Regions from separate parts of the Homo sapiens genome. Here region 2 is linked to region 1. A link means that fine-mapping ties the variant in region 1 to the expression of a gene that starts in the linked region. Tissue or cell type: cerebellar hemisphere. Region 1 holds a variant in brackets; the other region holds the start of a gene. All regions are shown on one strand. Distances are between the middles of the regions.

The links. PIP is the estimated chance that this variant, and not a neighbour inherited with it, causes the effect.
Region 2: AFF3 starts here. The variant in region 1 is fine-mapped to the expression of AFF3 in cerebellar hemisphere (GTEx, PIP 0.97).

Annotation. Positions count from the first base shown.
Region 1 is chr2:100,584,882-100,590,218 of GRCh38, forward strand. No RefSeq gene overlaps it. Among named protein-coding and RNA genes, the nearest start is that of LINC01849, 16 kb to the right of the region's middle. The variant A/G (reference allele first, on the strand shown) is at 2,158.
Region 2 is chr2:100,139,895-100,145,277 of GRCh38, forward strand. AFF3 (ALF transcription elongation factor 3) reads right to left here and starts at 2,696. Exons shown (of 25, transcript NM_001386135.1): 1 at 2,590-2,696.

The DNA of each region.
Region 1 (5,337 bases):
CATTATCGCTCAAAACTGGAAACAATCAAAACATTCATCAATAGATGAATGTATAAACACACTGTGGTATATCAGGACAATGGTATCTGCTTCAAAAGGAAATGCGCTATCAAACCACACACACACACACAAAACGGATGCTAAGTGAAATGAGCCAGTCTGAAAGGGGATGTGGATATTTATCTCCTGATCCTCATGATGAAACTTGACCCCAGTGTTGGAAGTGGGGTCTAATAGGAGGAATTTAAGTCATGGGGGTGGATCCCTCATGGATAGATTAATACCCTCTGATATGGTCTGGATCTGTGTCCTGCCCAGATCCCATGATGTTCAATTGTAATCTTCAGTGTTGGAGTTGGGGACTGGTAGGAGGTGGTTGTATCATGAGGGTGGATTTCTCATGAATGGTTTAGCACTATCCCCCTTGGTACTGTCCTCACAATTGATAGTGAGGGAGTTCTTGTAAGATCTGATTGTTTAAAAGTGCATAGCACCTCTCTCTTCACTCTCTCTCTTGCTTCTGCTCCCACCACGTGAGGCACCTCACTCCCCCTTTGCCTTCTGCCATGACTGGAAGCTTCCTAAGGCCTCCCCAGAAGCAGATGCCAGCATCATGCTTCCTGTACAGCCTGCAGAACTGAACTATGAGCCAATTAAATCTCTTTTCTTTATAAATTACCCAGTCTCAGGTATTTCTTTATAGCAACATGAGAACAGACTAACACACCCTCCCTGGAAGGGAAGGGGGTATGCACAATGGAATGAGTACTCACTCTGTTAATTTCCGTGACAGCTGGTTGTTAAAAAGAGCCTGGCACCTCCCTCCCCTCTCTCTCGCCATGCGATCTTTGTACATTGGTTCCTTTCACCTTTCACCATGAGTGGAAGCAGGCCGAAGCCCTCACCAGAAGCAGATGCTGGTGCCATGCTTCTTGTATAGCCTGTAGAACTGTGGGCCAAATAAACCTCTTCATAAATTACCCAGCCTCTGGTATTTCTTTCTAGCAACACTAAATGGACTAAGACATAACATTCTGGAAAAGGCAAAACTGTAGATACAGTAAAAAGATCAGTGATCACCAGGGGTTCAGGGGAGAGTGGAAGGGTTGAATAAGTAAAGCACATGGCACTTTTAGGGAGTCAAACTATTCTGAATGATACAATAATGGTGGAGAGATGGTAATAGGGGTTCGTCAAAACTCATAGAACTTCATGGCACAAAGAGTGAATCTTAATATATGCAAATTTCAAAAAATCTTTAGAGGGTTTGGGGAATGCCTGGATGAAATGCAGAATGGGGCAAGACAATCTAACTGCATTACAAATGTATGAAACAGCCTCACAGAAGGGGGCTGGGGGAAATGTGCTAACCTAAGCAGCACTGGAAATGAGTCCATGAGGGGAAGGGCAAAAGAAGCTGTACACAAGCCCTGTCTCTAGTTGATAAAGTCATTTATCACATGGGTGTGAATTAACAGTTGTAACACTGCTATACATATAAAGAGAATCGAACAGTTAAATACATAGATGGCAGATGGTGGGAGCCAGGTTTCTCACTGTTATCATGAGAGGTTACAGATAAGTGGGGGGCAAAGGTGAGTGTAAGTGAGAATAATCCATGTGGTAATAGATTAGAGTTGGAGTCATCACTATGAACTCCTGTTTAGGTTTTGTCTTTTTTTTGAGACAGAGTCTCGCTCTGTCGCCTAGGCTGGAGTGCAGCGGAGTGATCTCAACTCACTGCAACCTCCACCTCCTGGTTCAAGCGATTCTCCTGCCCCAGCCTCCCGAGTAGCTGGGATTACAGGTGCCCACCACCACGCCCAGCTAATTTTTGTATTTTTAGTAGAGACAGGGTTTCACCGTGTTGGCCAGGCTGGTCTCGAACCCCTGATTTCAAGTGATCCACCTGCCTCTGCCTCTCAAAGTGCTGGGATTATGGGCATGAGCCACCGTGCCTGGCCACTCCTGTTTAGTTTAATATAGATACAGATGCTTATGAACAGAAATATTTAGGTAATGTATATGCATTGGGTAGTATACACACGCACATTTCCTTGCTCTGTCAGTTGAGGGAGGCTGAAAGAGGAATGACACCCCAGTAGCAAAGAACATACCTGCCACTTAGATCTTGATTTTTCTCCAAAAAAGGAACCA[A/G]TGCTCTTTGAAGAAATGGCTGATTCTAAAACTGAAGCAGGAAATATACAGGATAAGCCTGGAGCATCTTGTAATTCCAGAACACAAAAAACTGCTGAACAAACAAACACAAAACCACAATGATGAGAGTACGTCAGAGGTCCAGGAGCCAACTGACAGATCTCCCAATAGCTAAAGCCGGAACAATTTGGGCAATATAATAAATATTGGATTATAACCCAAAATATAAAGTACATATCTATGAGTTCATACTGATAAAAAAATGATTGAATAAATAAGTTGCCAGGCGCGTGGCTCACACCTGTAATCCCAACACTTTGGGAGGCTAAGGCGGGAGGATCACCTGAGGTCAGGATTTCAAGACAAGCCTGGCCAATATGGTGAAACCCCATCTCTACTAAAAATACAAAAATTAGCCAGGCATGGTGGCAAGCACCTGTAATCCCAGCTACTCAGGAGACTGAGGCAGGAGAATTGCTTGAGCCCCGGAGGTGGAGGTTGCAGTGAGCCGGGATCACGCCTTTGCACTCCAGCCTGGGTGACAAGAGCGAAACTTCAGCTAAACAAACAAACAAACAAACAAAAAACACAAAGAAACCCATATATATGTATACACACACACACACACACACACACATATATATATATATGAATGGAAATAAATAAATAAATAAATAAGTGGAGGAGAAGAGACCATCGCCCAGGCAGCATTCCAAATAACGTAGAGATACTCTACTTAAGATATTCCACTCTTTAAGGGTGGGTTGTCCATAGCAACTTCCTTCCAAAGTGTACAATATGAAAAGGGAGGTGGGAAGAGTACCTTTTTTTTTTCTTTTTTTTGAGTTGGAGTCTTGCTGTGTTGCTCAGGCTGGAGTGCAGTGGCTCGATCTCGGCTCACTGCAACCTCTGCCTCCTGGGTTCAAGTGATTCTTCTGCTTCAGCCTCCCCAGTAGCTGGGATTACAGGTACCCAACAATAATTTTTTTATTTTTTTATTTTTAGTAGAGATGGGGTTTTGCCATGTTGGCCAGGCTGGTCTGGAACTCCTTACCTCAAATGATCCACCCATCTCAGCCTCCCAAATTTCTGGGATTACAGGCGTGAGCCACCGCGCCTGGCTGGGAAGAGTATCTTTATAGTGTAGAAACCTAACACTATCTCAGCTGGGTGATCAAGGTCAAAATCAACAGTGATGAGTCATACTGGTAGTACAGACCCTGGGTATGATGTAATGAAAATGACGCTTTACTTCTTTGGTCTTCCTCCAAAAAACCAAACCACAATTAAGACAAAAACATCTGACAAGTCCAAATTGAAGAACATTCTACAGAATAGCTGACTAGAAAAACTATCAACGTCATCAAAAACAAGGAAAATCTGAGAAACTTTTATAGCCAAGAGGTGCCTAAGAAGACCTGACTAGTAAATGGAATATGGTGTCCTGGATAAGGTCCTAGAACAGAAAAAGTGCATCAGTCAGAAACAACAGAACTCTGAAAGCAGATAGACTTTAGTTACTAATTATGTATCAATACTGATTCATTAATTGTAACAGGTGTACGATGCTCATGTAAGATGTTAAGAGGAGAGAAAACTGGTGCAGGATATATGAGCACTCACTGTACTAGCTTCTGAATTTTTCTGCAAATCTAAAACTATACTAAAAAAATTAAATTTATTTTAAAATATGGCAGTTCATGAATCACATCAAAATGGAAATTGTGCCAGGCACGGTGGCTCACCCCTGTAATCCCAGCACTTTGGGAGGCTGAGGTAGGCGGATCACTTGAGGTCAGGAGTTCAAGACCAGCCTGGCCAACATGGTGAAACCCTGTCTCTACTAAAAATACAAAAAATAGCCAGGTACGGCGGAATACACCTGTAATCCCAGCTACTTGGGAGATTGAGTTAGGATAATTGCTTGAATCCAGGCGGCGGAGGTTGCAATGAAGTGAGATCACACCTCTGCACTCCAGCCTGGCTGACAAAGAGAGACTCTGTCTCAAAAAAAAAAAAAAAAAAAGGAAATTGTAATCCTGTAAGAAAGGTGGTACTCAGTTCTTGATTGTCATGTGTCTATAGTAAAGTGCCAGAACTAAAGGGACACATAGGTGTTAGTTTGGGTCTGCCCAGATGCAGAGCCTGAGCGGGGACTTGGGTACAGTTTGTTCGAGAGGAGATCCAAAGATGCAGGCATGTGGTTGGGTGTGGTGGCTCACGCCTGTAACCCCAGCATTTTGAGAGGCTAAGGCAGGCGGATGACCTGAGGTCAGAAATTCTAGACGAGCCTGGCCAACATAGAGTGAAATTCCGTCTCTACTAAAAAGTACAAAAATTATCTGGGTGTGGTGGTGCACATCCGTAGTTTCAGCTACTTGGGAAGCTGAGGCAGGAGAATCCCTTGAACCCGGAAGGTGCAGGTTGCAGTGAGCCAAGTTTGTGCCACTGCACTCCAGCCTGAGTAACAGAGCAAGACTCCGTCTCTCAAAACAAAACAAAACAGAAAAAACAAAGATGAAGGCATGAGAGCTTTGAGAGACAGAGGCAGGGAAAGGGAAAAGCTGACAGAAGGGTGGGAATGTGAGGTCAGGGCTGGTGGCAGCGGAAACTCAATCCCTTTGAAACCTCTAAGAAGCATGTAGATGACCTCCCAGAGTTGTCCACCCACAGAGAGGATCTTGCTTTATCACCCAACCCTGGCCTCCACCACTTGAGGGTGCCCCAGGGGAGTGAACTGCCCTCCACTTCCGGGCTGTCCTTACGCAAAGGCTGAGCAACTGTCTGTGTGCCTTGGAGAAGGACTTCACAGATGACCCAGTGTGGATGCTGGTGGTGCAGCATGAGTCTGAACTTGCACAGAGTTTGGTTCTATTTTTTTTTTTTCCCAAGCCAAACTGTATGCAGCTTTATTAAAGATACTTTCCATAAACAATCATGGTATTTCAGGCAGGACATGGGCAGACAATCGTTAACAGTATACAACAACTTTCAAACTCTCTTCTTCAATGGACTACCAGAAATCAGAAAGCCACTATAAAACCCAATGAAGTCTTCATCTCATGCTCTGAATAGGGAAAGTTTGGAGTGAGGGTTGACATTTCACATTTAGCATGTTGTTTAACAACTTTTCACAAGCCGACCCTGACTTTCAGAAAGTGAAATGAAAATGGTAGAATT
Region 2 (5,383 bases), 440 kb before region 1:
AACCGGAAATCAACTAAATTTTCATATATGGGAATGGTTGCACAAATTATGGAACATCAGCTCCAGAGGGTGCAAATGGGTCATTTGAAAGAACAAGTTAAATCATACCTAATGACATGTCATTAAGAACCAACATTATTTATACTTTTCATTTCCATTTAACTTGCCTTTACCGAAGGTGGATTTCAACACGTTTTCCTTACATGACTCGGAAATAATATAACAGCATTTTACGTATGTAGACTCATTGAGCCCTCATAAAATCCTGTGAACTCTGTAGGACAGGACATTACACCCACTTCACAGAAAAAGATGTGGAAGTGCAGAAGATAAAAGTTATTTATGGAAGGGTCCATAGCTGTCAACCTTGATAGGCAAGACATCAGGTCCTTCCTCTGAGTAGTGGTGTAGAAAAAATGGTTGGAATTTAGAAACCAGCATCCAGCTCCTCACCATGCCTTCAGCTTTCTCTGTGACTTTGAACTTGTTTCTTAAACTCTCTGAAACTGGACGTCCTCACTGGTCACGTTTTGTTACTACTTGCTTTGTATTCTGGGTGTGATGGGTGGGGGATTGGGACACAGAATCTGGAGATGGTCAGATCCCAACGCTGCTATTTCCCTGCTCTGCACTCTTAGGCTACCTACCAATCTCTCCTCTAAAATAAGCATAATTGCAATGGCTCAGATACAATAACAAAATGTGTGTAAAATGCCGAGCACCACGTCTCACACCTGAGAGGCACTGAATGCATGTTATATACTATCATTTGGATGTCACCGTTCCATGTGCCTATTTCCTGGTTTGCTGTACAAGATGTGTATGAGTACATGTCATCAAGCCCACAGAGCTCCAGAACATGTTCCTCTCACAAGCAGGCCTCATAGGGAGGGGTGTTCTGTGCTGTTCCTCTTTCCTGCTCACTACTTGTCTGTAGCTACAGTGTAAGGACTGTAATGTCACTGCTCTGGCCTTAAGTGTCACCCCCCAAACCCATTTTACACACACCACCTCCCACCTTTCACCTTTCCCAAACTCTTACCATGTCCCTTCAAGTTTGATGGCTTAATTGTACAAAAGGTAGTGATGATGATGATGATGATGATGACAATGATAACAGCTGCTAATACTTACTGAGCCCTTTCAATGTTCCAGGCACTTGTCTAAGCACTTTACATGTATTAGCTTATTTAATTCTTAAGAGGAAGGGATTACTATCTACTATTGTACTTGTGTTACAGATGTGGGAACTCCGATGCAGAGATGTATAGTGACTTGCCTAAAACCATCATGTTAGAGTGGGAATTTAAACCTTGAAATCTGGAAAATAAGCAATGTATATATTTTTCTATTTTCTAAATGCAAATCAAATATACATATGCATAACACCACTAAACACTAAGTGCAGTTACGCCTAGAACAAGGGAATAGCAGTTGACAGAAACACAACCAAAACTAAGAATATTAAATGTCTGTATTACTTTCACTGTAATCACTTCACTTCAACAGTGAGATGGGATAGCCCTAGGTAAAGGAAGGTGCTCTTGTAGTTAGAACATTCTTAAATTTTGCACCAAGGAACACATGCTTTTAATAATGGCAGAGACAACATTTTTTGATGGATTATTTAGTTTGTACGATCAACATTCAAAGAATGAGTTTACCACCACTTTGTTATTGTAAACACTTGACCTTTAGCTACCTGAATGATCCCCTCTTTGAATAAAAGGAATTATGAAACACATGTGTAGACATATTTCATTTTTATATATGTGAGACTCGAATAGCAAGGAAATCACATATTAGGAAAAAAACCCCTTTGTCTTGCTATTAGTTCTCTTTGGTTTCAAAAATCTGGTCACTGTGTATATTGCATTATATCATATGTGTGTGTACATATATATACACACATAAACACACATACACACAATGTCATGTGTATAAATACATGATGTGTTTATGCACATACACAGACACACACACACAAATACACACATATACAATGTTCCATCCAAGAAATACAAATATAGTGCTGTTAGCCCCTAACAGTGAGGAGGTCATTATTCCAAGTCATTTCTGCAGAAGTGACGGTGGCCTTAGGTGGAACTGCCCATGATCTCTCCTTGCAAGCTCACTCACTGGGGCCATTGACTGGGATCCAGTCTGTGGCCATGTCATGGTTTCTATTTTTGAGGTTATAGCTAATGAGCAACATGAGGTTAAGACACACTTTTCATAAGGCCCCAGCCAGCATCATAAATATGTGTGTGAGCATGTTCACACTCAGGTTATGTCTTCTTTATGTGCACCCTCTACCACACACACACACACACATGCACACGCACACACACTGACGGCTTCAGTGACCAACTTTGGTCACATCCCATCTCTTCCTTCTCAATCCCTCTGGCTGTTCACCAGGGCCTGGACCATCTCGGTGAGGCTGACCAAGAATGCTCCCCCTGCCCTGACCAGCGGAGCATGGGCACAGCTACTTAGAGCGCCACCCTTCAGGACACAAAGTCGGGGCTACCTCTCTTCCAGGCAAGGCATCCTAGAGGGCCCGCACACCCTCCAGTTTGATCTTACCTCTCAGCTCCCGTTCCTTTTCTTTCTCTCCCCAGTAAGTCGTTGAACGTCTTTCTTCTGAGGCTGAGCGTGGAGCTCTCTTCTCGCTGGCGAGCTTTCTGAATGGCACTTTCTGTACAAACAGGAAGAGCATGTGTGGTCACAACCCAAGTGTGCAGGTGTTGATAGAGGATGTGAAAGTGTGGAGGCGAGTGACTAAACCAGATACCCAACCGGCCAACTCTCACTTGTGGCAGGGCCTGGTCTACCAGAAGGCTGGAAGCAGGAACCTGGACTCTACTCTGGGGAGACCAACTGACAAAAGCAGAGGATGGTGGCCCTGGAGGCCAAGGGAGAAGGTCTCTTTGACTCCTGTGCTTTCTAACCCTATGCAGACCCATAAAAGAATCCCAGGAACATTTTGGAATCTCTTAGATATATGATTATCAAGAATGTTGATTTCAATGGGCTGCTTAACTTGTCCAAAGCTCTGCTGGTTTCCCAGGCTGTCTGGGCCTCCAAGAGATCAGGACCAAAGGCTCATCCTGCATTGGAACTGTGACAAGTCTTCCAGACCTTTCTAGAACAAAGCTACACCAGGAAAGAAGAGTCTTAGGCAAGGAATCAGATGTCCTAAGGCTGCTCTACATGACCTACATGATGGGTGTTACCTCCTCATCTCCCATTCAGTCAACCCACGGGCACTGGACTTCCTGCCCGACACCCTTCCCTCTCCCCATTCATGCCTGGAATTATTTTCACTAATGACACCAGGGATTCACTAATGGATGCTTTTTCAGTTCCTGTCCTATTTGTCTCCACTGGCAGTGTTTGACTTCCCTGTAGTGTTGACCATTTCTTTCCTCCCAGAACTTCTGCCTGGGCCGCCATGACTCCATACTCTCCTGGTTTTTGTCAGGCGGTCTCTCACACTGGCAGGCTTCCATTCTTTGGTCTTAATTTTCGCCCTCCTGCAAGCTCCACTCTCCGCCTCATGGTTCCTGTTCTCCATGGGTGGCCTCTTCCCAGCTCCAGATGGAACTTGCCAAGCCCACATCCATAGCATCACACATTTCTGCTGTTCTCCTGGAACATCCCCCAGCACCTCCCGTCAGACTCGCCACAATGAAACCCTGCTCTGTCCTCTACCCCACTCATTACTTACCATGTGGCCTGTGAATTCCCTCCTGCCTTGTCCCAGCTTGCTCCTCAGGTCTCTACCCCCTTCTGAGTTTACCACCTTCTGATCTCTCACTTTGCCTCTGCTAATCTGGCTTCTTCAGGTTTGACCCTCCATTATCCTCATCCAAACAGGCCCGTCCTTATCCTGAGAATGGATACCTAGAAACTTCCCCACCCAGTCCTATCCCAAGCCCTGGGAAATTATCCCAGTATTGTCTGCCTCATGTCCCTGGCAAGGAGAAAACGTTTCTTTATCTTATACCCAAACCAGAAATGGGGAGGCTTCCCACGTTCTTCTCTTTGCTGAATACTCTTCAACCTTCCATCACCAAGCCCTGCCCATTCTACCTCTTCAGTCACTCCTCAGATCCTTCTTCCCGTCCGCATCTCCACAGCCACACCCTCCCTCCATTGCCTCTCATCACTGCCCTAATCCCCAAGGGGTACGTGCACCCAGGGCACACCAGACCGTTCACTGAAGGATGAGAAGAAAGGAATTGAATGTCTATCTACCCACACTTGTCTGGTTTTTGTATTTAATTAAGACTCACATACCATAAAATGAGCCGTTTTAAGATGGGGAATCCTGTGGCATTGAGTACACTCACAATGCTGTGCAGCCACCACCTCCATCGAGTTCCCAGACTTACATCTATTTTTACGTCATGTTTTTAGTGTTTACATTTTGTGTATGTTTCAAGGCATGCAATGTGTGAATACAGTTGTATTGTATATCATTTGTGAATAATCATACATCTGCTCAGAATAGGCGGCAAAGACTTTTTTGCTGAAGAAGATACAAAATTAGAAAAGTGGGGACACGTGACCTCCTAACTCATCTCTCACATGTCAGGCTCTAGAGTGTTTTCCAAACTGCCTCCAAATTTTCTCTGCAAAAGACTACAAAAATGATGACAGTACACTCCCCTCACCCCACGACCAGTCCTTAAACGCTTCAATGGCTCCCTGTCACCCACAGGAAAATCCCAAGGCTCCATCGCTGGGCAGGCGAGATGTTGGATTCAGTGGCCTCTGCCCACTCCCCAATACCATCTCTTGCCATCCTTGATACCACTTCCTTCCTCACCACCCAACAATCCCACCACCACTCATGGTTTCTTGAACTTTCAGGCTGCTTTATGTCACAGCTTTGCACATGCTATTTCCTCTTTCAGGGTGCCTTCACTTCCATTGGCTATCTGGCAGATCCCCATGGATATTAAAAACCCTTCCATCCTGCTCATCTCAAAGCAGAATTCCTCACCTGTGCGGGCTGAAGCCATTGCCTTCATGTTAGATGATACTATGGGCAATTTGATGGTCAGGAGGGTGGGCTCTGCCTCCAGAAAGACCTGGGTTTGGGTTCAGCCTCTATCATTTACTAGCAAGGGTAACTTGGGGATGTTACGTTCAGCTTCCTCGTCTATACGGTACCCACTCATAGAGTGACTGTAGAAATTAAACAACATAGTGTGTGTGCAGGATGTCATAAGTATTCAGTAAGTGGTGGAGATTATCATGATGGTTATTCTGTTTGTTTACCTCACTATTCTGTAAACTGCTTGTAAAATTTATAAATTTCATACCAAGGAGAGCTACTACTTCTAAGGCAGAATGTCTTCATTTTAATTAA